4 linked regions of the Homo sapiens genome follow. The protein of the gene in region 1 purifies or fractionates together with the protein of each later gene. This does not show direct contact. Each region holds a gene or a part of one and is shown in the gene's direction. Other genes may lie near its edges.

Evidence for each region.
Region 2: the proteins of ACP5 (region 1) and CIZ1 purify together in Homo sapiens (affinity purification with mass spectrometry; 3 studies listed by BioGRID and IntAct, with this or other methods). This does not show direct contact.
Region 3: the proteins of ACP5 (region 1) and COA7 purify together in Homo sapiens (affinity purification with mass spectrometry; 2 studies listed by BioGRID and IntAct, with this or other methods). This does not show direct contact.
Region 4: the proteins of ACP5 (region 1) and KLHL15 purify together in Homo sapiens (affinity purification with mass spectrometry; 3 studies listed by BioGRID and IntAct, with this or other methods). This does not show direct contact.

The regions. Positions count from the first base shown.
Region 1 is NC_000019.10:11,574,632-11,582,619, reverse strand, and holds ACP5 (tartrate-resistant acid phosphatase type 5 precursor), read left to right. Parts: upstream 1-4,974; 5' UTR 4,975-5,027; intron 5,028-5,302; coding exon 5,303-5,563; intron 5,564-5,776; coding exon 5,777-5,904; intron 5,905-6,031; coding exon 6,032-6,377; intron 6,378-7,266; exon of another isoform or gene 7,267-7,367; coding exon 7,368-7,610; 3' UTR 7,611-7,960; downstream 7,961-7,988. UniProt on the Homo sapiens protein: Involved in osteopontin/bone sialoprotein dephosphorylation. Its expression seems to increase in certain pathological states such as Gaucher and Hodgkin diseases, the hairy cell, the B-cell, and the T-cell leukemias.
Region 2 is NC_000009.12:128,167,573-128,174,572, reverse strand, and holds part of CIZ1 (cip1-interacting zinc finger protein), read left to right. Parts: intron 1-4,465; coding exon 4,466-4,553; intron 4,554-4,872; coding exon of another isoform or gene 4,873-4,950; intron 4,951-5,053; coding exon 5,054-5,167; intron 5,168-5,371; coding exon 5,372-5,521; intron 5,522-7,000. UniProt on the Homo sapiens protein: May regulate the subcellular localization of CIP/WAF1.
Region 3 is NC_000001.11:52,695,321-52,702,191, reverse strand, and holds the start of COA7 (cytochrome c oxidase assembly factor 7), read left to right. Parts: upstream 1-3,844; 5' UTR 3,845-3,865; coding exon 3,866-3,971; intron 3,972-6,871. UniProt on the Homo sapiens protein: Required for assembly of mitochondrial respiratory chain complex I and complex IV.
Region 4 is NC_000023.11:24,024,182-24,032,023, reverse strand, and holds the start of KLHL15 (kelch-like protein 15), read left to right. Parts: upstream 1-4,837; 5' UTR 4,838-4,884; intron 4,885-6,965; 5' UTR 6,966-7,167; intron 7,168-7,842. UniProt on the Homo sapiens protein: Substrate-specific adapter for CUL3 E3 ubiquitin-protein ligase complex.

The DNA.
Region 1 (7,988 bases):
CCCGGGTTCAAGCGATTCTCCTGCCTCAGCCTCCTGAGTAGCTGGGACTACAGGCACGTGCCACCACACCCAGGTAATTTTTTGTATTTATAGTAGAGATGGGGTTTCACCATGTTAGCCAGGATGGTCTCGATCTCCTGACCTCTTGATCCACCCGCCTCGGCCTCCCAAAGTGCTGGGATTACAGGCATGAGCCACTGCACCTGGCCTATTCTTTAATCTTTTTAAATGTCTCCACCAAGCAAACACCTTGAGAAGTCCTTATCAGTTATTAAAAATCTACAATGCAAACATACAAATAAAAGGAGAACAGTAAGTTCTCTTAAACATTCTGATACTACTTCTAAACTTAGCCAATAAACTGAGAATGAATGTTAATTTTTTAAATAAACAGGCCAGGGGCAGTGGTTCACACCTGTAATCCCAGCACTTTGAGGGGCTGAGTTGGGAGGATTGCTTGAACTCAGGAGTTCAAGAGCAGCCTGGACAAGGTGACAAATCCCTCTCTCTACAAAAAATACAAAAATTAGCTGGGTGTGGTGGTGTGTGCCTGTAGTCTCAATCCCCAGGAGGCCAAGGGGTGTGGGAGGATCCCCTGAGCCCAGAAGGTCGAGTCTGCAGTGAGCCGTGATCGCATCACTGGTCTCCAGCCTGGGTGACTCTGTTTTAGAAAAAGAAAAAAGAAAGAAAAAAAAAGCTTTCATTAACTGAAGACAGACTGAAAGCAAGAGAAACTGAAAGCAAGATAAATGAGTGGGTGGTTTTCTCAAGCACTGGTAAGTGCTGCAGAGAAAACTACAGCAACAGGAGAGTCAATGATGGGGGCAGGGTGGTGCATTTCAGATAATTTCAGATAAATTATCTTTTTCTTTTTTTTTTTTTTTTTTTGAGACAGAGTCTCACTCTGTCACCCAGGCTAGAGTACAGTGGCACGATCTTGGCTCACTGCAACCTCCGCCTCCCAGGTTCAAGCAATTCTCCTGCCTCGACCTCCTGAGTAGCTGGGACCACAGGTTTGTGCCACCACGCCCAGCTAATTTCTGTATTTTTAGTAGAGATGGGGTTTCACCATGTTGGCCAGGCTGGTCTCGAACTCCTGGCCTCAAGTGATCCACCCGGCTTGGCTTCCCAAAGTGCTGGGATTACAGGCGTGAGCCACCACGCCCAGACTCATTTCAGATAAATTAAAGGAACTTGAACACAATGGGTGACCTCAGTATCTGACTAAGGAAGACCCTTCCAGGCAGGGAGAACAGAAAGTGCCAAGACCCTGAGGCCAGAGTGTATCTGAGACAGTCAAGCAATGCGGAGGAGGTCAGAGGAGCAAGAAACAGGGAAAGCAGGATTGGCAGGAGGAAGGAAGGGAAGGGATTGGGTAGAGACAGCAGCGGAGAACAGGACCTGGATGTATTGGCAACAGGAGGAACTCACTCGTGGGGTTGTTGACATCTGAGATTGACACTGGTGTTGGGAAAATAGGAAAGGGTGGAGGTGGAGGGAGATTCTGAGTCACAGCCTGATCTAGCTCCACAGAAAATCAGCAGAAGAGAGTTCTCCTGGGTGAATGGAGAGAGAAGAGCTTATTCAGCACCCTGGAGGAGACCAGAGAGAGATAGCCAAGAACGCACAGGTTTTATTACATGCTCTGTGCAAGATCAGGTTTATTTTTTTCATTGTGCTCTCTCTCTCTCTCTCTCTCTCTCTCTGAGACAAGAGTCTAGCTGTGTTGCCCAGGCTGAAGGTCAGTGGTGCATTCGTAGCTTATTGCAGCCTCAAACTCCCAGGCTCAAGCGATCCTCCACCTCAGCTTCCTGAGTAGATGGAACCACAGGTGTGCACCACCATGCCTGGCTAATTTTTTTTTTTTTTTTTTTTTTTTTTGTAGCAATGTGGTCTCGCCACGATGCCCAGGCTGTTCCTGAACTCCCGGGCTCAAGCGATCCTCCCACATTGGCTGGGTTTACAGGCCTGAGCCACCATGCTTGGCCAGCTTTTTCAATTTAAAAAATATAGAAAGTGTTAATACAAATTAAAAAGTTATAAAATAGTGCCAATAGTATCCCATTTTTCCGAAGACAAACATAGGCAGAGAAAAATTAATGGATACTGTCTCTCTGGGCAGGGGTATTACTGGCTATTATAATCTTTTTCTTCGTGCATTCCAGAATTTACCAACTTTTCTACAAAGATCATGTAGCACAATAAGATAATAAACATAATTTTGTGTGATCTCAAAATACAGGAAGCATAGAAGCTTCCAAAACACGCCTGTACCCACCACGTGAAGAAACAGATGTTAACATTTGGTCATAATTGCTTCAGATTTCTTTCTTTTTTTTTTTTTCTGTTTTTTTTTTGGGGGGGACAGAGTCTTGCTCTGTCGCCCAGGCTGGAATGTAGTGGCATGATATTGGCTCAGTGCAACCTCCTCCTCCTGGGTTGGAGTGCAGTGGCATGATCTCAGTTCACTGCAACCTCTGCCTCCTGGGTTCAAGAGAGCACCTCCAGCTAATTTTTGTCTTTTTAGTAGAGACAAGGTTTTGCCATGTTGCCCAGGCTGGTCTGGAACACCTGACCTCAAGTGATCCGCTCACCTCGGCCTCCCAAAGTGCCAGGATTACAGGTGTGAGACACCACACCGGCTAAATAATAAGTTTTTAAAAAAACAGGAGACTGGCCAGGCATGGTGACTCACGCCTGTAATCGCAGAACTTTGGGAGGCTGAGGTGGGCAGATCACCTGAGATCGGGCATTGGAGACCAGCCTGGCCAACATGGAGAAACCCCGTCTCTACTAAAAATACAAAATTAGCCGGGCGTGGTGGTGCGTGCCTGTAATCACAGCTACTAGGGAGGCTGAGGCAGGAGAATCGCTTGTACCCGGGAGGCGGAGGTTGCGTGAGCCAAGATTGCGCCACTGCACTCCAGCCTGGGCAACCAGAATAAAACTGTCTCAAAAAAAAAAAAAACAAAAACAGGCCGGGCGCGGTGGCTCACGCCTGTAATCCCAGCACTTTGGAAGGCCAAGGTGGGTGGATCACGAGGTCAGGAGATCGAAACCATCCTGGCTAACACGGTGAAACCCCGTCTCTACTAAAAAATACAAAAAATTAGCCGGGCGCGGTGGCGGCGCCCGTAGTCCCAGCTACTCGGGGGTGCTGAGGCAGGAGAATGGCGAGAACCCGGGAGGCAGAGCTTGCAGTGAGCCGAGATCGCGCCACTGCAGTCCGGCCTGGGTGAAAGAGCGAGACTCTGTCTCAAAAAAAAAAAAACCAAACAAACAAACAAACAAAAAAACAAAACAACAGGAGAAGATGATGACAGACCTCACAAGAGCTTGGCCCCAGGGCTGAAACCCCACCCAGTGCTGTGGTTCTGCGGCTGTGGGCCCATGGGTGCCCCCAAAGGGTCCCAGGCAGATGGAGGCTCCTGGTTGGCGTGGAGGAAGGAAAAGGATGAAATCGGCTCCCCTGGCCACCCCTTCTAGCCCAGCTGCAGCTGCAGTCCGTGGGTCTGAGCCGACCCTTGGGGTTCATCGGCCCATTTTACAGATGCGGAGCCTACAGCCGGGAGGCGTGGCGGCTCTGGGCGGTGCAGGGTTCCGGGGCGGGGAGGCCGAGGCGCCCGCCCTCCCCGCCGGGGCTCACCTGGGTCAGCCCTGAGCCCTCGAGCAGGGCGGATCGGCCGCTGCCTGCTTAAAGCTGGGGCCGCCAGGAGTGCGATCGCCTGCGGATCTGCAGCTGGGCACCGGCCGCAACGCCCGCCCCGCGACGGCAGGTGAGATGCGGGCGGCCCCGTGGGAGGGGTCTCTGCCTGTCCTCGTCACCCACTTCCTTCCCGTTTGTTGCTGCTGCAGGGCTGGGAATGGGGGGGACCAAGCACTTCGCAGGGTGACCCGGGGAGATCTGTGAGCCAGTGGCCTCAGCGTTGAATGAGAGCTCTCTCCCGGGTCCGCGCTCGCAGGGACTGAAGGGACTCCTGAATGTCCGCGGGACGTGTCGCGGCGGCGCCCAGCACGGAGGAGGCAGGCAGGGAGGTGAGGAGCAGGTCAGACCGGCCGCAGGTGCAGGGCCTCCTGCCCTCCCAGGCTGCGGTCCCGTGGAGGGCCTGCAGACAGCTGCTGAGACTATGAGGGTCAGAGGTCTGTGGTCACGCGCGCTATCACCAGCTAGCTGCCTCCTGCCTGGTTCCTCCTGCAGGAATGGGAGTCTGGGGGGAGGGGAGGGTGTGGGCAGGACTTCCTGGAAAAGGGAAGCCCGTTGGTGTTTATGTGTGGGATGGAGAGAGGGCAGGGGGAGGACGGGGACACACGCGGAGTCCCCCACCCAGATGTTGTCAAACACAGCTCCCACACCAGACACGCAACCCATCCTAGAGATGCAACCCAGGCACACACACATGGACACACACAAAACTCCATCCATAGGGATTCCCACCCAGTGCCACGTGAGAACACAGGCGTGCATCGCAGACAAGCCACACAGGCCTCGCAGGCTCAGCATACATGTCTGCAGCAACACCATCAGGTACAGAGCCGAGGCCCAGGTAGGCATGCTCAGCTGCACGCAGGAAGCAAGACACACCCAGACACACACAGGTAAGCCCTTACTCAGAGAAAGAAGGTGCAGGAGATGTGTCTTGGGTAATCACAGCCACAGCCTCTCAAGTGTGCACACACACACACACTCACACTGAGATACACAGACACACAGAGATACCTGGACGTGTCAAGCCTACAGCACAAACAGGCCCCTGCAGGTCCACCCGGAGGCTGTGTGGGCCGAGGCTGCTGCACACGTGTGCCCAGATCCTCCCACCCCCACCCCAATCCCGTGTCCTGCTCCAGGGAAGTCCAGGGCTCACATGACCCAAGGGGAGGGCTCCCGGGACAGCCCTCGGAGAAACTGCATCATCCTCACTAATGATCCACTTCCTCCTCAGGGAATAAAGGCTCAGGGACCGGCAGTTCTACTCTAGAGCCCACCAGCCTCTCAGAGCCTCCGGTGACTGGCCTGTGTCTCCCCCTGGGTGAGTGCTGGGCAGGCTAGGTGGAAGGAGGGTGAAATGGGCCTGCAGGGCCATCTTGGTACAGCTCGCCCTCTCACAGACCGCGCCCCCCTTCCCTAAGCCAGCTTGTGCAGCCTTGTGCAGCTTGTGTGTCCTGAGAATTAGGGCACCAAGGGGTTCCCGCAGGGGCAGCCTGCAGCAAGCAGTCTCCCTCTATCTCAGGGCAGGCGGGGGTCTCAAGGCCTCCCTGCCCTTGTCACAGCCCGGGCCACCTATGCTTGTCTCTCTTCTCCCAGATGGACATGTGGACGGCGCTGCTCATCCTGCAAGCCTTGTTGCTACCCTCCCTGGCTGATGGTGCCACCCCTGCCCTGCGCTTTGTAGCCGTGGGTGACTGGGGAGGGGTCCCCAATGCCCCATTCCACACGGCCCGGGAAATGGCCAATGCCAAGGAGATCGCTCGGACTGTGCAGATCCTGGGTGCAGACTTCATCCTGTCTCTAGGGGACAATTTTTACTTCACTGGTGTGCAAGACATCAATGACAAGAGGTTCCAGGTCTGTGCCCAACAGAGTGGGGCAGGAGGTGGGGGCGGGCAGTGGGGAGAAGCCGCCTTACCTAGTGACCTTCCTTTGGTGAGGGCAGAGGGAAGGTGATGGGGCACCTTTGGGCGCCGGGAGCATTCAGTGTCTCCCTTATCCTGACTTGGTGGGAGGATCGGCATAGCCACTGACCCCAGGGAAGAGGCCTGCCCTATCTGTTTGCTACAGGAGACCTTTGAGGACGTATTCTCTGACCGCTCCCTTCGCAAAGTGCCCTGGTACGTGCTAGCCGGAAACCATGACCACCTTGGCAATGTCTCTGCCCAGATTGCATACTCTAAGATCTCCAAGCGCTGGTGAGCCACCCTCAGCCCTGCCTTCCGAGATCCTCACATAGCAGGGACACAGGGGCCCTGTGGCTTGAGCTGACCCTGGGACTTCTGCGCCCAAGATGTGCACCCACGACCTCTATCCCCTCCACAGGAACTTCCCCAGCCCTTTCTACCGCCTGCACTTCAAGATCCCACAGACCAATGTGTCTGTGGCCATTTTTATGCTGGACACAGTGACACTATGTGGCAACTCAGATGACTTCCTCAGCCAGCAGCCTGAGAGGCCCCGAGACGTGAAGCTGGCCCGCACACAGCTGTCCTGGCTCAAGAAACAGCTGGCGGCGGCCAGGGAGGACTACGTGCTGGTGGCTGGCCACTACCCCGTGTGGTCCATAGCCGAGCACGGGCCTACCCACTGCCTGGTCAAGCAGCTACGGCCACTGCTGGCCACATACGGGGTCACTGCCTACCTGTGCGGCCACGATCACAATCTGCAGGTGAGGGCCCTGTGGGTGGGGTGGGAGCTGGGTGAGGGGGGTCCCCATCCCAGCTGATGTCCACATGGCTGGGGTCCTCCTGCTGTTTGAGGGTCTCCTGTGGCCTTCAGAATGTCTAGACTGTCCCTCAAATCTTGCTGTCTAACCAGGAAAACACTCCAAAGCCAGAATAATATCTTCGAATTGCCAATTTCTTTCTTTCTTTCTTTTTTAAGCTCTTTTTTTTTTTTTTTTTTGGAGACAAGGTTTCATTGTTTTTCACCCAGGCTGGAGTGCAGTGGTGCAATCGGGGCTTACTGCAGCTTCAATCTCCCGGGCTCAGGTGAACCTCCCACTTCAGCCTCCAGAGTAGCTGACACTACAGGCATGGGCCACCACATGCAGCTAATTTTTGCTTTTTTTTTTTTTTTTGAGAGGGAGTGCAGTGGCACGATCTCAACTCACTGCAACCTCCGCCTCCTGGGTTCAAGCAATTCTCCTGTCTCAGCCTCCCAAGTAGCTGGGATTACAAGCATGGGCCACCAAACCTTGCTAATTTTTATATTTTAGTAGAGACGGGGTTTCACCATGTTGGCCAGGCTGATCTCGAACTTCTGACCTCAAGTGATCTGCCCGCCTCGGCCTCCCAAAGTGCTGGGATTATAGGCATGAGCCACTGCACCTGGCCCTTGCGCATTTTTTTTGTAGAGGCAAGGTCTCACTATGTTGCCCAGGCTGGTCTCAAATTCCTGGGCTCAAGCAATCCACCCCCTCAGCCTCCCAAAGTGCTGGGATTACAGGCATGAGCCACCACACCTGGCCACCAATTTCTTACTAAGTGCTCTACCTATGAAATAGGATTAATACACTCCTAAAAGTCAGGAAATTGAAGCCAGGAGGGGTTACATACCTCAAGGTGACTCTGTGGTTAGGGCCAGATCGAGCCCTGGACCTTAGGCAGGGCTCTGCTCAAAGCTGGGTCTCCACTGACCCCTTGTCCTCCATCCTCAGTACCTGCAAGATGAGAATGGCGTGGGCTACGTGCTGAGTGGGGCTGGGAATTTCATGGACCCCTCAAAGCGGCACCAGCGCAAGGTCCCCAACGGCTATCTGCGCTTCCACTATGGGACTGAAGACTCACTGGGTGGCTTTGCCTATGTGGAGATCAGCTCCAAAGAGATGACTGTCACTTACATCGAGGCCTCGGGCAAGTCCCTCTTTAAGACCAGGCTGCCGAGGCGAGCCAGGCCCTGAACTCCCATGACTGCCCAGCTCTGAGGCCCGATCTCCACTGTTGGGTGGGTGGGCCCTGCCGGGACCCTGCTCACAGGCAGGCTTTTCCTCCAACCTGTGGCGCTGCAGCAGGGCAGGAAGGGGAAACACAGCTGATGAACTGTGGTGCCACATGACCCTTGTGGCACAGATGCCCACGTATGTGAAACACACATGGACATGTGTCCCAGCCACAGTGTTATGCTCTGTGGCTGGCTCACCTTTGCTGAGTTCCGGGGTGCAATGGGGGAGGGAGGGAGGGAAAGCTTCCTCCTAAATCAAGCATCTTTCTGTTACTGATGTTCAATAAAAGAATAGTTGCCAAGGCTGAACCAGTGCCACTGGTGTGTTATGTTCTCC
Region 2 (7,000 bases), on another chromosome or scaffold:
GTTCTTCGCGGTTGTAAGTGAAAAAAATTCTAATTTCTATAAGACAGAAATTAGCTTGAGCAAAAAGGAACAATGTTTCTGGCTTAGGTTAGTGGGAATATAAGAGATACAGCTGGACCCAGGGGATACCATTTCTTAGAGAGGCTCCATCTCTCACTACAGTGGGCACCAGGTACCCACAGCCCCAGCCTCCCTGCACAGTGACTTCCAAGGAAGGGCAGTCACCTGTGTCTGCGGTAGCAGAACAGTTTCTAGTGGAAATGCTGGTTAATCTGATTGTGGTCACGTGCACGTTTCTGAAGCAATCCCCTGGCCAGGGATAAGGTGTTCTGACTGGCTAGGCCTAGGCAGGCCAGCTCTACCCAAACCACATGGAAATACATTTCCCCATGGAAGGCAGGGGGGTGTTCCCAGGAATGGGGCTGAAGGCTGGATCCCAATACCCTAGCTGGTGGGGGTGCCCGTCTCCTCCCTCCTCAAAGCCCCCAGGGCAGGTGCTGTGAACTAAGCCCTTGCCTACCTTAGCTATTTCTTTGTTTTTTTTTTTTGTTTTTTTGTTTTGTTTTTGAGATGGAGTCTCGCTCTGTCACCCAGGCTGGAGTGCAGTGGCGCGATCTCGGCTCACTGCAAGCTCCGCCTCCTGGGTTCACGCCATTCTCCTGCCTCCGCCTCCCGAGTAGCTGGGACTACAGGCGCCTACCACTAGGCCCGGCTAATTTTTTGTATTTTTAGTAGAGACAGGGTTTCTCTGTGTTAGCCAGGATGGTCTTGATCTCCTGACCTTGTGATCTGCCCGCCTTGGCCTCCCAAAGTGCTGGGATTACAGGTGCAAGCCACCATGCCCGGCCCGCGTTGGCCGTTTCTGGGCAGCCTCAGACGTGACACTGGCACAAGGTGTCTGCCTGTTTGATGACCATGTTCTCTCCCCACCCCCTTTCTTCATTTGTTGTGTTTTTCTCTCACAGAGATCAAAATGCACATTGAAAAATAGAGCCAGGCTGGCATGGTGGCTCACACCTATAATCCCAGCACTTTGGGAGGCTGAGGTGGGGGGATTGCTTGAGTTTAGGAGTTCAAGACCAGCCCGTCATGAGACCTGTGTCTCTGTAAACTATAAAAAAATTAGCCGGCCGGGCGCGGTAGCTCACGCCTGTAATCCCAGCACTTTGGGAGGCTGAGGCGGGTGGATCATGAGGTCAGGAGATCGAGACCATCATGGCTAACACGGTGAAACCCCGTCTCTACTAAAAAATACAAAAAATTAGCCGGGCGTGGTGGCAGGCGCCTGTAGTCCCAGCTACTTGGGAGGCTGAGGCAGGAGAATGGCCTGAACCCAGGAGGCGGAGCTTGCAGTAAGCCAAGATCGCGCCACTGCACTCCAGCCTGGGCGACAGAGCGAGACTCCGTCTCAAAAAAAAAAAAAAAAAAAAAAAAAAAGAAATTAGCCAGGCCTGGTGGCATGCACTTGTAGTCCTGGCTACTTAGGAGGCTGAGGTGGGAGGATTGCTCGAGCCCAGGAGGTAGAGGCTGCAGTAAGCCTTGATCATGCCACTGCACTCCAGCCTGGAGCAAGCTGCTTTAAAGTCTGATTTTGTTGCTTGCAGCAGTATTAAGAAGATTTTACTGAGGACAGTAAATGTCCCTAAATCCTAAAATCTAAAACCTGGTACTCTCACTGTGTGGCTGATGTGCCTTTTTTGACTACAAAAAAATTTTTTTTTCTGATTTTAAAAATAATTCGCTCATTATATAACGTTTTGAAAATACAAGGACACAGACACATGAGAAGATAAAAATCACCCATAATCCCATTACCCAGAGATAAACACTGTTTACATTTTGACCTAGTTCTTCTTGTGATCCTTTCTGGATTTATACAATCTTTAAAAATAAAAATCGGAATCATGCTACATGACAACACGAACACTTTCTGTCTCTAAGCAGCCCTCCCCAGCAGAGCTCTTACAGGGCTTTATCAGTGGACATGTGTCCCCTAAAATTTATGAAAACTTGTGTATTTGCATATTTTATAGAGAGTCCTTATTTTCGCTGAGTGAGACACTTTTTTTGGTTTTTTTTTGAGAGGGAGTCTCGCTCCGTTGCCCAGGCTGGAGTGCAGTGGCGCAATCTTGGCTCACTGCAACCTCCGTCTCCCAGTTCAAGCAATTCTCCCGCCTCAGCCTCCTAAGTAGCTGGGATTACAGGTGCCTGCCACAACGCCTGGATAATTTTTTTGTATTTTTAGTAGAGACAGGGTTTCACCATGTTGGCCAGACTGGTCTTGAACTCCTGACCTCAGTGATCCGCCTGCCTTGGCCTCCCAAAGTGCTGGGATTACAGGCGTGAGCCACCATGCCCAGCCAGGGTTTTACATGTATTTGGCTTTTCTTTTTTCTTTTTTTTTTTTTTTTTTTTTTTTTTTTTTGAGACAGTGTCTCACTCTGTCACCCAGGCTGGAGCGTAGTGGTGTGATCACAGCTCAATGCAGCCTCAGAACTCCTGAGCTCAAGGAACCCTCCTCCCAAAGTGCTGGGATTACAGGCGTGAACCAGCGGTATGCCCAGCCTTGGTTTAAGAAGCTGCCTACATAAAGGATACACTCTGGCCAGTGATAGCACAGCCCTTGTCATTGACATTTGTTTGCTTTTTAATTTTCTTATATCTTTCAACATGTAGAAGTTTTAAATTTTTATGCAATCGGATCTATCAGTTTTTTCCTTTATGATTTCTGGCTTTGATGTTATATGTTGCAATGATCTTTCCCAACCCAAGATTAAATAGTTGCTCTCCCCTTGTAAAATAAGTATTATTTTATTTATTTATTTATTTATTTTCTGAGACGGAGTCTTGCTCTTTTGCCCAGGCTAGAGTGCAGTGGCGCGATCTTGGCTCACTGCAACCTCCGCCTCCTGGGTTCAAGCAATTCTCCTGCCTCAGCCTCCCGAGTAGCTGGGATTACAGGCGCGTGCCACCACACCCGGCTAATTTTTTTTTTTTTTTTGTATTCTTAGTAGAGATGGGGTTTCACCATGTTGGTCAGGCTGGTCTTGAACTCTTGACCTTATGATGTGCCTGCCTTGGCCTCCCAAAGTGCTGGGATTACAGGCGTGAGCCACCGTGCCCGGCCCTATTTTATTTTATTTTTTGAGACCGGGTCTCTCTCTGTCACCCAGGCTGGAGGGCAATGGTGATCTCGGCTCACTGCAACCTTAACCTCCTGGGCTCAAGGAATTCTCCCACCTCAACTTTCCAAGTAACTAGGACTATAGGTGCACACCACCATGCCTGACTAATTTTATTTTATATAGAGACAAGATCTCACTATGTTGCCTAGGCTGGTCTTGGACTTCTAGGCTCAAGCGATCCTCCTGCCTCAGCCTCCCAAAGTGCTGGGATTATAGGCATGAGCCACTGCGACTGGCCCCCTTTTTATTTATTTATTATTTATTTTTGAGACAGCGTCTTGTGTTGCCCCAGCTGGAGTGCAGTGGCAGTCATGGTTCACTGCAGCCTCGACCTCCTGGGCTCAAGCAATCCTCCCACCTCAGCTTCTGAGCAGCTAGGACTACAGGCATGTGCCACCAAACCCAGCTAATGTTTTTTATGTTTTGTAGAGATGGGGTCTTGCTGTGTTGCTCAGGTTGGTCTCAAACTCCTGGGCTCAAGCAGTCCTTCTGCCTTGAGGACTGGGATTACAGGTGTGAGCCACTATGCCCGGCCTCCCTTTTTAAAGTATATGGTTTTTATTTTTATGCCTGAATCTCTGGTAGTTCAGCTAGAATTCATTTTCAAGTAAGGTAGAAGGTGGAAGCAGAAGGCGTTTCTTCTCCAAGTAGACAACAAATTGTTCTGACATAATTTGTTGTATAATCTATGCTTTTCAATACCAATTTATCAGAAGCAGAATTCTTTTTTTTGAGATGGGGGTCTCACCCTGTCACCCAGGTTGGAGTGCAGTGGCGCTATCTTGGTTCACTGCAACTTCTGCCTCCCAGGCTCAAGCCATCCTCCCACCCCAGCCTCCTGAGTACCTGGGACCACAGGTGCATGAGCCACCATGCCTGGCTAATTTTTTGTATTTTTGCTAGAGATGGGGTTTCCCCATGTTGCCCAGGCTGGCGAAGCTGAATTCTTACCAATATTTGAACCTGTTTAGGACTTTCCATTCTTTCCCACTGATACACTGTCAGGATGTACATCACACTACACAGTTTTATCTATTGTAGCTTGTGGTTTTCATTTTAAAGGTTGGTATCCCCAGTGCTTCATTCCCCTTCCCCCTAAAGTTTCCTGGGTTATTTCTGCTTAAGTACTCATCCAGATGAACCTCAGAACCATTTTGTTAAGCTTCCCTAAGAGATCCTGTGGGAGTTGCTATTGGAATGGATTACACTTATGGAGCGCTCTCAGACAGCTGCTGTCTTTCTGGCGTCACATTGTACTTGCTTTGACTGTTGTCATTCAGGGAGCCTCCACCAAGGCGCTGGTGCAACACCTGCCAGCTCTACTACATGGGGGACCTGATCCAACACCGCAGGACACAGGACCACAAGGTAGGAGGGCCTGCACGCTGCAGAGGCACCCGCACTGCCGTCTGCAAGTGGAGTCCAGACAACACAGAGCCCCAGTTGGAAAGTAAACGTTCCTCTTTGCCCCTGCACACCCATAACCCACAATGCAGTTTCTGGAGGAGTCAGTCTTGTTTCTTCTTCGGGCTTCAGGTTCCCCATCTGTCCAGTGTAGGCCAGGCCCCATCTCACCTGCCATTCAGCCACGGGGCTCACAGGGGTTATTTGGGCAGCTGCCCTCTCTCTCGTCTTCTCTCTGTGTCTGTCCTGTCTCTGTGTTGCCATCTGCCATCCTATCTCTCAGCCACCCACACCACGAAGAGATGTGTTTGCCCACGTTCCAGTGCAGGGGTGGAGCACAGCCCGGCTTGTTACAGATATGGTGGGCCTGCCCGGGGGAGGTGAGCTCTTGCTGGGCCCTGCCTGGGTGCTAGTCAGGGGGCTTGCAGCTGGGGACACTGCTTGGTTGGCCTGCCTTTTTCCAGATTGCCAAACAATCCTTGCGACCCTTCTGCACCGTTTGCAACCGCTACTTCAAAACCCCTCGCAAGTTTGTGGAGCACGTGAAGTCCCAGGGGCATAAGGACAAAGCCAAGGAGGTAACCTGAGCTCCCTCAGAGGACATGGGCCCAGAGAGGTACAGAGCCTTGGCCAAGGCTGTGTAGCAAGTTGAGGTTTATCCCAGCCCAAACTCACAGCGGGTCTGGAGGGATTGGGACTCTCAGGGGAGGGGTGGGGTGGGTAGGGCATGGCCCCCTGGCTGTTCAGAGCTGACCTGAGCTCCTTGCCTACTCCCTGGGCAGCTGAAGTCGCTTGAGAAAGAAATTGCTGGCCAAGATGAGGACCACTTCATTACAGTGGACGCTGTGGGTTGCTTCGAGGGTGATGAAGAAGAGGAAGAGGATGATGAGGATGAAGAAGAGATCGAGGTTGAGGAGGAACTCTGCAAGCAGGTGCTGGGGGGAGGGTGTGGGAGGCGGGCTTGGTGCTGGATTCCCAGCCCAGGACAGACCTCATCCCACCTCCCGGAGGCCAGACACTGGGCTGGCATCTGTGGGCACTAATGCATGCCACAACTGATTACTGTCAACTGCCTTCTGCATGACTATGTAATTATGCATGATGACTAGAGAGTGGCAGTTAAAATATGCAAAGCCTGACTGAAATTTGGACCTGTGTGGAGGAAGGGAAAGGGAACAGCATCAGTAAAGGCACGGAGGTGGGAAACTATGTAGTGTGCAAAGGAAAAGTCAGATGATGGTGATGATAATGGAGAGACTGACAGCAGCAGACATCTTTTTGAGCACTTAGTGTGTTCCAGGTGTGTGTACCAAGCACTATCCTGGCTGAATCTCATCAGATTGGATGGCAGGAAGTAAAACTTCAGAGTCCATGTTTCCAATGCCGCAGCTACCCTGTCTCTCATGAATGAGGAGCTGGAGGAGCTTGGATTCGTTGCAGTTTTTTTTTTTTTTTCTTTTTTTTTTTCAAGACGGAGTCTCGCTCTGTCGCCCAGGCTAGAGTACAATGGTGCGATCTCAGCTCACTGAAACCTCCACCTCCTGGGTTCATGCGATTCTCATGCCTCAGCCTCCCAAGTAGCTGGGATCACAGGTGCCCACCACCACGCCCGGCTAATTTTTGTATTTTTAGTAGAGACGGGGTTTCACCATATTGGCCAGGCTGGTCTCGAACTCCTGACCTCAGGTGATCCACCCACCTCGGCCTACCAAAGTGCTGGGATTACAGGCGTGAGCCACCATGCCCAGCCAGATTCTTTGCAGTTTAACACGTTTCCAGAGAGTGTGTTCTAGGTCAGGCCCTGGTGCTGGAAGCAGGGACCCATGAGGGCCAAGGCCTGGTCCTTGCCCTCAAAGGCTGACCCAGTTATAGTCCAGGGTGGTGAGGGGCCAGCTGGGGCTGCTCATAGCCTCTGGCAGCCAAAGTGGGGTATTGAGGGGCTGGGGAGGAAGCGTTGTGGTGGGGGGGCCTGCAGTCCTAGGCAGGGTAGTATGAGGCCCAGCTTCATTGCTCAGTAGTCACATCATCTCAGGCAAGCCACTTGGCCTCTCTGAGCCTCAGTTGCCTCTGCTCAGAAGTAACAACCTGAACTTGGACTATCAGGGAAGCCCAGGGCCCACAGCTTGGTCCTAGGAAGGGCTTAGCAAACGGGGGTGGTTGTCCTTCTTGGAAGCCACATTTGTTTGCCTGGTGAGTGGTGGAGGGCACTGCTAGGCCTGCTAGGGCTGACACGGCCAGAGTCAGATGACCTCATCTCACATCCAGCAGGTGAAATGCAGTCTTTGATCCCTTGAAACCCACCCTCTAGGACCAAGGTCACTGCAGTATTGGATAGGACCTCAGGGAGTTAGCAGGGGGCTCATGGTTAAGAGTGTGAACTACGGCTTAGACCTACAGGGTTCCCTGCCCAG
Region 3 (6,871 bases), on another chromosome or scaffold:
AGTTTGGGTGTTTCTTAAAGTTAGATATATACCTACCATATGATCTAGCCATTCCACTCCTAGGTATGAACCCCAAAAATGGAAATGAATGCCCATACAAAGACACGTACACAAATATTCACAGCAGCTTTATTTGTAAGCCAAAAACTGGAAACCCAAATGGATAAACAAATTGTGATATATCTACATCATGAAATGTCATTCACTAAGAAAAAGAATGAACTATTAATACGTGTGGTAACATGGATGAATCTCAAAATAATTATGCTGAATCGAAGAAACTATACAAAAAGAAACAGTACTTACTGTATCATTCTATTTAGATAATATCCTACAAAATGCAACCCATCTTCAGTGACAGAAAGCAGATTAATGGTTGCTGGGGAGGGAATGAAGTACAAAGTCACATGAGGAAATTTTGAGGTGATGAATATGCTCATTATCTTGATTGTGATAATGGTTTACAGGTGTATACATATGTAGAAACTCATAATTGTTACTTTAAAGTTATGTGCAGTTTCCTGTATGTCAATTAGACCTTCATTTAATGTTTCTTATAGCTTTAAGAAAAACCTGGGTCAAAAGAGCAAGAGTCAGTGATATTCTAAGTTCCATTAATGAAAACCAAATTATTTGGAATGATAATCCCTCTTCTTAATTCAGTCAACAATACTTGGGCACCTAATATTGCTGGGCACAATCAAGACACTGTTATTATAACAAGAATGAGCTAAGACCACATGGACGATGTCAAATTGAAGCAGAGAACTTAAGAAGGCAAGCCAAAAAAAAAAAAAAAATACAGGGGAAAAGCACTCTAGGGCAGAGGCAACAGTTAGTTCAAACGGATCACGAGGTCAGGAGTTCGAGACCAGCCTGGCCGATATGGTGAAACCCCATCTCTACTAAAAATACAAAAATTAGGCGGGCATTGTGGTGGGCGCCTGTAATCCCAGCTATTCAGGAGGCTGAGGCAGGAGAATTGCTTGAAACCGTAAGGCGGAGGTTGCGGTGAGCCAAAATCACGCCACTGCACTCTAGCCTGGATGAAAGAGCAAAACAAAAAAAAGTGACCTCTTACTTGGTTGAGCCTCTCATCACCAACTAACTCTCTTGTGCCCTCTACCGCTCAGGTGATCTCATTTCAATGCAGTTCAACTCAGAAAATAAAGGGAAACATTCCCAGATTTTAGTAATCGACATCACCCTGCTCTATTCTATCATCAAGCCCTATTCTATTCTTGGCCCTGTGACCAGCATACAGGACACAGAGGTCACAGTCTGGTGGGGAACACAGACTTTCATGCCATTATTGGCATGACAAGAAACATTCCTGGAACAGGAATGACTTTGAGCCAGGCGCTCTGCCAAGCACATTGCATACATGAACTTGTAGTCCTTCTGACAGCCATTACAAATGGATCTGCATTTACAGAAGAGGATTCAGACTCACAAACATGATTGGTTTAAGGTTACAATTTAATAAACATGGAACATGGATTCTGAACTAAGATCTGTCCCCACTCCAAAGCCAGTTCTTTCTTTCCTACTACACTATACCAGAATAAACCAAGTGGTGTGGAACACCAAAATGGGAGCATCTAAATCTAATTTGAATGTGTGTAATTGTTGTGTCTGGGAAGACTTTACATAGGAGAGTATTTCCGATTTGTGTCAAAAAGGGTGGTCCAGGCATCAAGAGCAGAGGTAAACAGGGACACAAACTTGGGATCTATTCAGAGAACAGAAGGTTGGTGGGATGTGGGGGAAGAGAGGCAGAAAATAAGGCTAGAATCAGATTGCACAGGGTCTTGAAGGCCATCCTAAAGAAGATGACCTCAAACCAAAGTTCAAGGATTCCCATCCTGGGCCATGTGTACTGAGGAGTCCCCTAAGGTGATCAGGGTATAAGAAACCACAGGTAAATGTGGTATATTGCCTGGAATGTCAATTTTACTCAAAGGCTTGGGGGAGAAAAGGCAATCTTCTGTTATCCTATGAAAGATGTATTATGGGGAAATGAATGTAAAATCCTATGAATTTAAAAAATAAAACTGGGATTTCAGACATTATTGGCTGCCTTCCAATAAATAAGTGGTTGGAAATAGTCCATTCTTTGCTGCCATTGGGGATAGCTTAATAATGGAGCCATTTGGAAAGCATTGTTATAGGCGATGGGAAGCCATGGATTTAGCTCCATTGAGAATTCAAAAGTAGGGCTGGATGGAATTCAAAGATGAATGGGAAGTCAGCCGGGTGTGGTGGCTCACGCCTGTAATCCCAGCACTTTGGGAGGCCGAGGCCAGCGGACCACCTGAGGTCAGGAGTTCAAGACCAGCCTGGCCAATATAGTGAAACCCTGTCTCTACTAAAAATACAAAAAAAATTAGCCGGGCGTGGTGGTGGGCACCTGTAAGCCCAGCTACTCGGGAGGCTGAGGCAAGAGAATCGCTTGAACCTGGGAGGCGGAGGTTGCAGTAAGCTGAGACCGCGCTATTGCACTTCAGCCTGGGCAACAAGAACGAAACTCCGTCTCAAAAAAAAAAAAAAAAAAGACGAATAGGAAGTGGCTGTCTTAGGAGAACTTTCCATCTAAGCTTTATGGAACTGATGATTCTTAGCAGGAACAGGAGCAGGAAAACAAAGCAAAATGTAGGTAAATTTCCTCTCCTCCTCCCCATCTCCTTGACATGTTCCTTTTCTACCTCATTCATTCTTTTTCGCTCTTGTCGCCCAGGCTGGAATGCAATGGCACAATTTCGGCTCACTGCAACCTCCACCTCCCAGGTTAAAGCAATTCTCCTGCCTGAGCCTCCCAAAGAGCTAGGATTACAGGTGTGCTCCCTGTAATTTTGTATTTTTAGTAGAGACCCCTGCTAATTTTGTATTGTTAGTAGAGACAGAGTTTCACCAGGTTGGCCAGGCTGGTCTCGAACTCTTGACCTCAGGTGATCCACCCACCTCGGCCTCCCAAAGTGCTGGGATTACAGGCGTGAACCACCGCGCCCGGCCTCATTCATTCTTTTATTTTTTTAAAAAAAATTATTATTGCATACCAACTCCCTCACTTACTGTGTGACCTTGGACAAACTACTTAATTTCTCTGTACTTTAGTTTTCTTATCTGTAGAATGGGGATAATAATAATACCTACCCACAGTGTCACTGTGAGTGTTTTTACAGTGACATGATATATAATGAGAATTAAATGAGTTAATTCATATAAAGCATTTAGAGCCTGGAACAAAGTTCAGCACTGTTTGAGTACTAGGTGTTATAACAGTGACGTTGCTACACCCTTCACTGCTACTGTGTGCCAGTCAACATCTCCCATAGCCATTCATTGCTTAGGTAATTCATGTTGGTGGCCAAGACAGGTCTGGGAAGAAGACAGATGAATCAGACTGCTCACTGCACTTTGTCCAGCTACACCTGGCACATATAGAAGCTCCTCTAAATGCTTGCTGAATGGATAAGCGAATGTCTTCCTATTGAACTCCAAGTTCTTTGAAGGCAGGGACCATATTCCTAGCTGTCATATCCCTAGAACAATGCACTGGTGAGGCACACAGTAGGCGCTTAGGGATTATACATAGATAAATGACTGCAGGTGGAAAATCACTAAGGCTACAAAGCGAGCATAGGTAAGGTGCTGCAGAGAGACAGCCCCCAGTTTCAGGAAGGCGGTAGCCCTGGAAGCGTGGCTGCCAGCGCCCTTAACGGCGCGATGGCTGCTGGGAAGCACAGGCTCGCTTGGCTCGCCCCGGGATCCCGGGAGAGCGCCGCGGTTGGCGTCGGCGTCAGCCCCACGCCCCGCCCCGCCCCCTCCGCCGGCTCACGTGACCGTCTTTGGGCCGGCGCGAACCATGGCCGGCATGGTGGACTTCCAGGATGAGGAGCAGGTCAAGTCCTTTTTGGAGAACATGGAGGTGGAGTGCAACTACCACTGCTACCACGAGAAGGACCCGGACGGTGAGCGGCTCCAGCGCAGCCCGGCGACGCGTCGGGGAGGGACGTGCCCGGAGAGGTCTGGTCTGCGACCTCTGAGAGGCTGGAGAAGGAATCACGTGGCGGGCGGGGGACGGGGTCTGTGGATCGCGGTGACCGCGTGTGTTGGGAAGGGCGATGTGTCCCGGGAAGACCGAGCCAGGAGGCCGGGGCGGGTAGGAAGAGACGTGCTGGGGCTTTTGGGTTAGGGACTGGGGATCCATCGGTGAACAGATGAAACTCCCTGCCCTCGTGGAGCTTCCAAGCTAGTGCGGGGAGTCGGGCAATAAGCCTCAGGTAATTCATGAAATCGTGTTCGAAAGTAGTAAGTACCGGCCGGGAGCCGTGGCTCACGCCTATAATCCCAGCACTTTGGGAGGCTGAGGCGGGTGGATCACGAGGTCAGGAGATCGAAACCATCCTGGCTAACACGGTGAAACCCTGTCTCTACTAAAAATACAAAAAATTAGCCGGGCGTGGTGGCAGGCGCCTGTATTCCCAGCTACTCGGGAGGCTGAGGCAGGAGAGTGGTGTGAACCCGGGAGGCGGAGCTTGCAGTGAGCAGAGATCGCGCCACTGCACTCCAGCCTGGGCGACAGAGCGAGACTCCGTCTCAAAAAAAATAAATAAAAAGAAAGTAGTAAGTGCCGTGGAAAAAAGACTGGGTGAAGGGTGTCAGGAGGGCAGGAGGGCAGTTTTAAATTGAGTGATCAGGGAAGATCACTGAGAAAGTGGCAATTGAATAAAGCCTTGAAGAAGGTAAGGGAGTGAACCATGCAGTTCTTACCATAGGTAACAGCTGGCGAAGACGCCCTGAATCACAAATGTGTCCTGTGTGTTGTGTGAACATTGAATTGACTTAAGAGTATAGGTGGATGGTGGTGACCAGAGGGGTCCACCCAGAGCAGCTAATACCTTTGGGTGGTTTTCTTCTTCTTGCTTTATTTTTATTTTTTGTATTTTCTTTCTTTTTTGAGATAGTATGTCACTACGTTGTCCAGGCTGGTCGCAACTCCTGGGCTCAAGTGATCCTCCCGCCTTTGATTACAGGCATGAACCACTGCACACTGCCTACTTTTTAATTTTTTTGTTTTTTTGAGACTGAGTCTCACTCTGTCACCCAGGCTGGAGTACAATGGCTCGATCTCAGCTCACTGCAACCTTTGCCTCCTGGGTTAAAGCAATTCTCCTGCCTCAGCCTCCCGAGTAGCTGGGATTACAGGCACCCACCACCAGGCCTGGCTAATTTTTGTATTTTCGTAGAGACAGGGTTTCACCATGTTGGCCAGGCTGGTCTCGAACTCCTGACCTCAAGCAATCCATCTGCCTTGGCCTCCCAAAGTGCTGGGATTACAGGTGTGAGCCACCGTGCCCAGCCTTTTTTTTTTTTTTCTTTCAAATAAAGGACTGGTGTGGTGGCACAAGCCTGTAATCCTAGCTCTTTGGGAGGCTGAGGTGAGGTGGGAGGATCACTTGAGGCCAGGAGTTCAAGACCAGCCTGGGCAATATGATGAAACCCTGTCACTACTAAAAAAAAAAAGAAAAGAAAAAAAGTGGCACTGGCCCTACCTTCTAATAGCTTGCAGTTTAGTCAGTTTAGTTTGCAGAAATGACATAGCTATTCCTTGAGGCTAATCCGTAACATAGACCATAACACAACCATATACATATCATAACATAGTCATGACACAGAGTTGCTCTGCAGTATGATGGCTTGAAAAGAACCTGGGGTTGGGCCGGGCACAGTGGCTCACGCCTGTAATCCCAGCACTTTGGGAGGCTGAGGTGGGCAGATCACCTGAGGACAGGAGTTCAAGACCAGCCTGACCAATATGATTAAACTGTCTCTACTAAAAATACAAAAATTAGCCGGACGTGGTGGCATGCGCCTGTAATCCCAGCTACTCGGGAGGCTGAGACAGGAGAATGGCTTGAACCTGGGAGGCGGAGGTTGCAGTGAGCTGAGATCGCGCCATCACACTCCAGCCTGGGCAACAAGAGTGAAACAACGTCTCAAAAAAAAGAACCTGGGGTTGTTCTTTGAGAGCTGGTCCATGTCCTAAGTATAGAAAGAACTTAGAGGAATTGGGGTCACTAAGGAACAGGGTGGTTAGGGAAGACTTTGAGGGGAGGTCTGGAGGGCTGGGCAAGTGTTGATTAAATGGAGGAGAGGGTGGGAGAAGAAAGTGCTATCTTTTGGAAGGTTGAAGTCAGGATTTAGTACGTTTGAAGCGGGAGTCTGGCCCACAGTATGTCAGGGCTTGAATGCCAGGGTAAGGAATATAGACTTTGCTCTGTAGGCAATGGAGAGCAAAACATGTCTGAGAAGCAAGTTCTTGGAATTGGGAAGGGTGGATATATCAAAAGGACTGGCTGCAGCACTTTACGAGACCTGAGAAGAGGCTATAGTTACCGTAGCGACTGGTGTAGTAGTTCCTTGCATGTCCCACTTTCTTACCTGGATAACTGAAGTCGCCTTCTAACCTGTCCCTCTCTTTGCACTTTACTCCCTTAAAATCCATTTCTACTCGCAGATAAACTGATATTTTAATTTCAATTTTGTTATGTTAAATATTAGATTTTAAAATAACCTATTTGTTATCAATGCCCAATTATATACCCTCACATAATTAAATTCCTCCATACTCAGGCATATATGAACATATATACCAGAGTAACGTTTTTGTTGGGGGGTGGGGTTGTTTGTTTGGTTTTGGTGGCTTTTTGGTTGTTTGTTTTCTGAGACAGGGTATTACTCTGTCGCCCAGGCTGGAGTGCAGTGGTGCAATCTCAGCTCACTGCAACCTCTGCCTCCCAGGTTCAAGTACTTCTCCTGCCCCAGCCTCCCAGGTAGCTGGGATTACAGGCGTGTTCCACCACGCCTG
Region 4 (7,842 bases), on another chromosome or scaffold:
ACCTGGCTAATTTTTGTATTTTTAATAGAGACGGGGTTTCACCATGTTGACCAGGCTGGTCTTGAACTGCTGACCTCATGATCCGCCTGCTTCGGCCTCCCAAACTGCTGGGATTACAGGCGTCAGCCACCGCACCCGGCCATCACTGCATTTTTTAAGAACTTAGTTTTAGAATCAATAAATAACCTCAGAGCCTACATTCAATCTTGTCTCTATCCTTAACCACAGTCCCCAAACCCTGAAGTTGTGCTGCTGGCAACAGTAGTTACTGGAGGTTTTTTTTTCTTTCTTTTTCCACTTCTTTAGTCATACAACACCATGTAGCAGCTCTTTATTCCTGCTACTCACCTCAACTCTGGCACTCACACTTAGAATGTGTGCATGTTTGGGTACACATCTACTGAAATGCAGTACTTAAGAATATGTAGCTTGGGCTGGGTGCGGTGGCTCACGCCTGTAATCCCAGCAGTTTGGGAAGCCAAGGCGGGCGGATCACCTGAGGTCAGGAGTTCGAGACCAGCTTGGCCAACCTGGTGAAACCCTGTCTCTACTAAAAATGCAAAAAATAAGCCGGGCGTGGTGGTGGGTGCCTGTAATCCCAGCTACTTGGGAGGCTGAGGCAAGAGAATCGCTTGAACCCAGGAGGCGGAGGTTGCAGTGAGCCAAGACTACACCATTGCACTCCAGCCTGGGCAACAAGAGCGACACTCCATCTCAAAAAAAAAAAAAAAACAAATATGTGGCTCGTATCTTGAGGCTTCTAAGTATAGTGTTATTTTTCATTGGTTCATAAAGAACTTAAAAGTGATTAATTTTGCTGGGCACAGTGGCTCAAGCCTGTATTTTGAGCTACTCAGGAGACTGAGACAGGAGGATCCCTCGAGCTCAGGAGTTCGAAGCTGCAGTAAGCTATGATCACTATGATCGCACCATTGCACTCCAACCTGGGCTACAGAGGGATACCTCATCTCTTAAAAAAACTTTTTTTTAATGATTAATTTTGGGAAAGGGGGTATGTTACTCCTTTTAACATTTTCATTTACTAAGAGGCACTGTCTACGTTGCATTTCACAGTAAATAGATTTAGTTAAAATGGTGACATTCGTTTCATCTTTCATTGATAGTGGATGTTTAGCAATTACAGTACTTTTCTATCTGGCTTAGCATAGCACACTCTTTGTCTTACTCTTATCTCACTGGCTACTCCTTCTCTGTCTCCTTGACAGTCCTGTATCTTCTCCCGGATGACTCCCTCACATTGCTGCGCCACAAAGCCCAGTCCTCGCTGTACACTCAGCCCCTTGATAATCTCATAACTGAAGCTGAAGCATAATGTTATTTTTCATTGGTTCATAAGGAGCACAAAGATGATAACTTTCTTTTTAAGGTTTTCATCTACAAGGGGGCATTGTCTACACCATGTTTCAAGGTAAATATATTCCATTAAAATGGCAATATTCATTGCATCTTTTATTGATAGTGAATGTTTAGCAACTTCCAGTAACTTTCTCTCTAGCTTGTAGCATTCCACACTCTTGTCTGATCTCCTGGAACCAGTTCCCTCTGTTCTCCAGGATGGCTCCCTGGCCCAGGCACACCTCTGGGCCCAGTCCTTGCAGCTTTTCCTTCCTCCCCACTCCCTTCAAAACTGATCCTCCTGAGGTCTTTGCGATGTCAGGAAATGACAATTCCATCCTTCCAGTTGCTCAGGACAGAAAACCTTGATGTTATCCATGACTCCTCTCTTTTCCTTTATCCCTACCTCCAGGAAATCCTGTTGGCTCTTCCTCCAGAATATTTGCAAAGTCTAAGCACTTCTCACCATCTCCACTGTAGCCTCCATTCCATTCCATTCCATTCCATTCCATTATCGGAATAGTCTCCTAACCCATCTCCCTGCTTCTGCCCTAGTCCACCTAAATTCTGTTACTTACATAGCAGCCTGAGTGTCAAATCATATTGGTCCTCTTCACCAAAGCTTCCAGTGGTTCCCAATTTCTCACAGGCCAAAGACCTTACAATTGCCTACCAGGTTTTATACACTCTGGTCCCTAATTTCATTGAAGGCAAGGCTCAAATGATACCTCCTACTTTGATCATCCCAGTTAAAACTGGAACACCCTTCCCCAGCTCTGTTATTTTCCATAGCATTTATCACATCCCGATTTGGGGAATAGACGCCACAGAATTAGTCCAGGCTGACCACCACACAAACAACAAATCTAAAAATAGCAAACTCTACCACCACCTGGATTGGGAGTGGGTTAATACAGAGTCCAGAGTTGCTACAACATATTATCTAAAAGAAACAGGATGTACAAAGAAACAGCAAAGTGTGACCCATACTCAGGAAAATAAGGAGTCAACAGAAAACTACCTCTGAGGGTTCAGTGTTACTGTGATCAGTGCAATTATAGTTTTTTTTTGTCCTGCATTTTCACATAAGATTATATTAGAAACAATTTCATAAGTCATTAAAACTTCTATGAAAATAATATATATTTTTTTTGAGGCAGAGTCTCCCTCTTTCGCCCAGTCTCCCGGGTTCAAGCACTTCTCCTGCTTCAACCTCCCAAATAGCTGGGATTACAGGCATGTGCCACCACGCCTGGCTAATTTCTTCGTATTTTTAGTAGAGATGGGGTTTCCCGTGTTGGCCAGGCTGGTCTCGAACTCCTGACCTCAAGTAATCCACCCACCTCAGCCTCTCAAAGTGCTGGGATTACAGGCGTGAGCCACCGCACCCGGCCACATTTACCACATTCTAACAGGCCACATAATTTGCTTATTTATTTTATTACCTGACACATGTAATCCGTACAAGGGCTAGAGTTTTCATATGTTTTATTCACTGATGGATCCCCAGTGGGTAGAACAAGACTTGGCATGTACTAGGCACTTACACATACTTATGGAATGAATAAATAAATAGTATAGTAGATTGCAAACCAACAATTTGTGGAATTAAGTAGGAATAAAAATACAACTATGTGAAGATCATTTACTATGTTAATATAATTACATGGTACAGTGGAAAGATCATGGGGTGGCTGGGTGCGGTTGATCACGCCTGTAATCCCAACACTTTGGGAGGCTGAGGTGGATGGATTACTAGAGGTCAGGAGTTCGAGACCAGCCTGGCCAACATGGGAAAACCCATCTCTACTAAAGTTACAAAATTTAGCTGGGCGTGGTGGTGTGTGCCTGTAGTCCCAGCTACTTGGGAGGCTGAGGCAGGAGAATCACTTGAACCTGGGAGGCAGAGGTTGCAGTGAGCCAATCACGCCACTGCACTCCAGCCTGGATGATAGAGGGAGACTCTGTCTCAAAAAAAAGAAAAAAAAAAAAAGTAAAAAGAAAAGTGATTACCAAGACAACTACCACAGACTGGGAATTTCTGAAAAGCCTCAACTTTTCTTTTCTTTTTTTTTTTTTTGAGACAGCGTCTAGTTCCGTTGTCCAGGCTGGAGTGCAGTGGTGCAATCTCGACTCACTGCAACCTCTGCCTCCTGGGCTCAAGCCATACTCCTACCTCAGCCTCCTGAGTAGCTGGGACCGCAGGCCCGCACCACCATGCCAGCTAATTTTTTGTATTTTTAATAGAGACGGGGTTTCACTATGTTCGTCAGGCTGGTTTCCAACTCCTGACCTCTAATGATCCTTCCGCCTCGGCCTCCCAAAGTGCTGGAATTACAGGCGTGAGCCACCACGCCTGGCCTCAATTTCTTAAAAAGCAAAAACAGGAGGGAGGAGGAGGGTATGCAGTATCCTAAATCCTCAGAACCCCTGGGGAAGAACCTCATTCCAACTCCACCAGCACTCCCAGGCCCAGGCTTCTAGCATGCTTCCGACCTCGCTAGCTGCTAAATAAATAGCTATTGAGGAATGTGTATTCTCAAATACTTAGGCTAGAGGGCTAAGAAAAGACAGCTTCCATCTACCTCTGTGGGACTCTACCAGTGTGAAAGGATACTCTCAAGGTATTTAACAACTCCCATTACAGTCCAGAAATTGGTGGGGAAAGTTAAAATATATTTTCTTTTCTTTTTTTTTTTTGAGACGGTGTTTTTGCTCTGTTGCCTGAGCTGGAGTGCAGTGGCTCACGCTTGTAATCCCAGCACTTTGGGAGGCCAAGGCGGGCGATCATGAGGTCGGGGGTTTGAGACCAGCCTAGCCAACACAGTGAAACCCCGTCTCTACTAAAAATACAAAAGTTAGCTGGGCACGGTGGCGAGCGCCTGTAATCCCAGCTACTCGGGAGGCTGAGGCAGGATAATCGCTTGAACCCGGGAGGCGGAGGTTGCAGTCAGCCGAGATCCACTGCACCCCAGCCTGAGCGACAGACTCCATCTCAGAAAAAAACAAGCAAACAAAAACAAAACAAACAAACAAACAAAAACAAGAAAAGAAAAGTTAGCCGAGCATGGTGGGGCACGTCTGTGGTCCTAGCTATTCGGGAGGCTGAGGTGGAAGGATTGCTTGAGCCCGGGAGGTCAAGGCTGCAGTGAGCTGAGATCATGCCTCTGCCCTCCAGCCTGGCCGAGAGTGAGACTGTCTCAAAAAAAAAATAATAATAATAACATAAAAATAAGAAATAAGAGTGAAAGAGGCATCATTGATTGAAGATAACTTGGGGAGGGGTTCATATAGTAAACGTATAGATTGATTGAAAGACACAGCCCAGTTTTAAAACTACATAAATATCCAAAAAAGCACATTTGAAATTCCACGAGACCTTGCAATGTCAAAATAAGGAGGGACGGGAAGCACGGTGATCACACAATGGCTTATGACATACACTCACTACATTTATACCTGGTACAAAGAGCGCAGAAACGTTTCAACTCTTGCTTGAATCAAGAACAGAAGCCTCTCTTTAGACAGGTCAGTGCCACATAGTAATGTATAGCTTAAAATGTTAGTTAATGTACAAAAATCCAAACTCAGCGTTTAGATGTTCGGGAATAATGCATGAACATTTAAATATTCAGAAGTGGAATGTATGCATTTTTAAAGTTTATTTTATGATTTAATTTTAAAAATTTGTTTTAATGTGAAATTCTGGGGTAATTTGTCATGTAGTAATAGATACAAATATGGCAAGCAGGGATTTTTAAATAATGAACAGAAATATCTTAAAGGAGCTATTGGAAAAGATGGAAAGAAAGTGTGAACAACTTGGGAATTTCAGTGTCTTACAGTTTTTTTAAAGCTTGTTATAGTTTAAATCGGAATAAGGAAGCGTATTTCCAAAAGATTGAAGTGATTGTGTTATCTCTCCCACGAAGTAGTCTACTTCAGCAAAACAGTACACCGTGTGCTATTTTGGCCTCTTGGGAAAGATGGTATGTTCAAGTTTGCTAGAAAGAGATAATTATCGCTTTTAGCGACACCTCTCACGGAAAGTTCATCGGGATATTGGTCTAGAGAGAAAATGGCGGCGGGGGGTGGGGGTGGGGGAAGCCGAAATACCTCAGTTTAGGATCTGCTATGGGCAATGGATGCCCTAATTTAAGGTTAATTGTAGATCCACGGGCTTCCAACTGTGTATTTCCGTCATCTACACTTTTCCCAGAAAGAGATGCCATAATAAATTTACAAAACAGTCCTATAGTCTAGTTTTATATTCTTGTCAAGAAAAGGTAATATTTAAAAAGTACTAGCTAGAATTCTATAAAAAACGAACAACAAAAATCACTGCCCTCTGAATGTTCGTTCTTGATTATTTTGACGCAAGTAGAGACAGCTTTTTTAAATCCGGCATTATCTCCGGGTGGTGCAGACATGCAATTTTTTATGAATTTTCCCACCCTTGGGAAATCGATTTCTGAAACGTGTAATTGTTGTGCAGTAAGCCAAGTGGACAGTGACGCAATAGTCCACTGCAAGTTGCCTTACAAAAAATGATGTCATTTGGCGCAGATCTAGTCACTTTTATAACAGGTAGCTATGGAAAAGCTCCCTCCACGTTGTCCCCGATTCCCCCACCCCCACCGTGGCCAAGATGCAAAAAGACACTTTCCTGGCTTCCTAGCCCTCAACTTGTCGAGGGTGGGCGCACCGCAGTGGCTCAGGGCCCATCGCTCGTGCAGGCGGAGAGAGACCGCTGCAAGGGGACGAGGACAGCTGAGTGTCCTCAGCCCCGACGGCGGCGCCGCGGGGGAAGCTGCGTCGGGCCCAGTCCAGGGCCGCGACGCCCGGCCGCCTGTTTTCCTCGGTGGGAAACCGCTGGCGTGGCGGGCCGGCAGCCGGGACGCGGGGCGCCGCGGGCGCGGGACAGCCTTCCCCGCCCCCCCTTCCCCCCCGTTCCCACACCCGCTCCCGCTCCCGTGGCGCCGGAAGTGACGCGTTTTGGGCTGAAAGATGGCGGCATTGGCGCTCGACCAGGGGGAAGGTAAACACCCGCCAGGCCACGGGCTGGCCCCCTCGGGGCGCCAGCAGGGGCCGAGGGGGGGGCCTCCCGGGCCAGCTCCCCGCCCCCAACGGCTTCCCACCCTCCGCCCTCTCTCCCAGCGTGGCGGCCTTCCGCGTCAAGACGACAGCGCACTGGGCCCCCTGCCGGCCAGCCCCGCCTCCCTGGGCGGGCCCCGGGCGGCTCCCGCGGCCCGCAGGGGGCGCGCGGCCCGGAGCGGCCCCCGGCTCGTGGCCCCGCACGCCCCGCCCCTTCCCCGCCCCTTTCCCGCCTTCCTCCACCCCCGGCGTGGGTGATCCCGAGGCTCGGCGCGCTTCGGGGCAGAAGCCCAGAGACGCCGTCCTCGACGCTTCCTCGGCTGGTGCTTCTGTCTCTGCCTGCTGCCCCCCAGCCCTTTTCCCCGCCCGCGGCCCCAGTCGGCCCTCCCGCCGAGCCCCGTCGGGTGCTGCGAGGCCCCCGGCGTTGGCAAGGTCGGTCCGGGCCCCGACGCCGCGCCGCCTCGTGCGGAGCCCGACTGTCTGGTTTCTCGACTCAGCGCTGTCTTCTTTCCCAGGACTTATCCAGAGGGGGCTGCAGGCGAGCACTCTCGTGCCCCGCCGGAGCGACCCGGCTCGTGCCGGGAGCGGCTGCTCGTAGACGTCCGAGGAGCCTGCCGAGTGCCGTCCCGGCGCCCGACCGCCCACCCATCGGCCCGCTGGCCCGGTTCTTCCTGATGCAGACTGCCGTCCACTAGAGGCTGGACAGGACCCCCCGAGGTACGTAGCCGCCCCTGGCCGCCGGCCTGCGGAGCCCGGGCTTCGCCCGCGGCCCCGAGCTAGGCACGAATTCGCCGGCCCTCTCTGCACGGACCCGAGTCAAACATTTGGTAGACGCCGGGACCTCGTTTGTCTTCGAGTTTACTTAAATTGTTTGAAATGTAATTTTTTTTTCCAGAGAGAGCGAGAAAGAAAAAGGAAGAAGCATAATTCAGCCATTTTTTGCAGCACACAGCTGCAGGTACCATGATTATTTTTTGCCTAACCCGTTCCTTCCCTTTAACAATTCAATTTATGCCTGAAATAGAACTATGCAAAATGCGAGGCATAAAACTAGGAATCGGAAGGTCTGGGTTCGACTTGGGTGACTCTGAGAAAAAATCGCGTACCGAGCCTTGGTTTCTTATCTATGAAATATAGTCGGTACTACCAACATCGCAGGGTTGAGAGGACTATATGAGGTCATATATGTGAAAATAATCCTTAACTGTAGAGTGTTGTAAGAATGCAAGGCCGTTTTTTAAGTAACCTTTGGTAGAGTGGTTAATGTAGTGGCTAACTGTTGCTGCCTCTTTATTTCTATATTATAAATATAAGCAAATAAGTACGGAATAATAGTAAAGCAGTGCTGTGAATCCATAGATCTGTAATAGTCACGTTGCTTGGCCTTCCTCC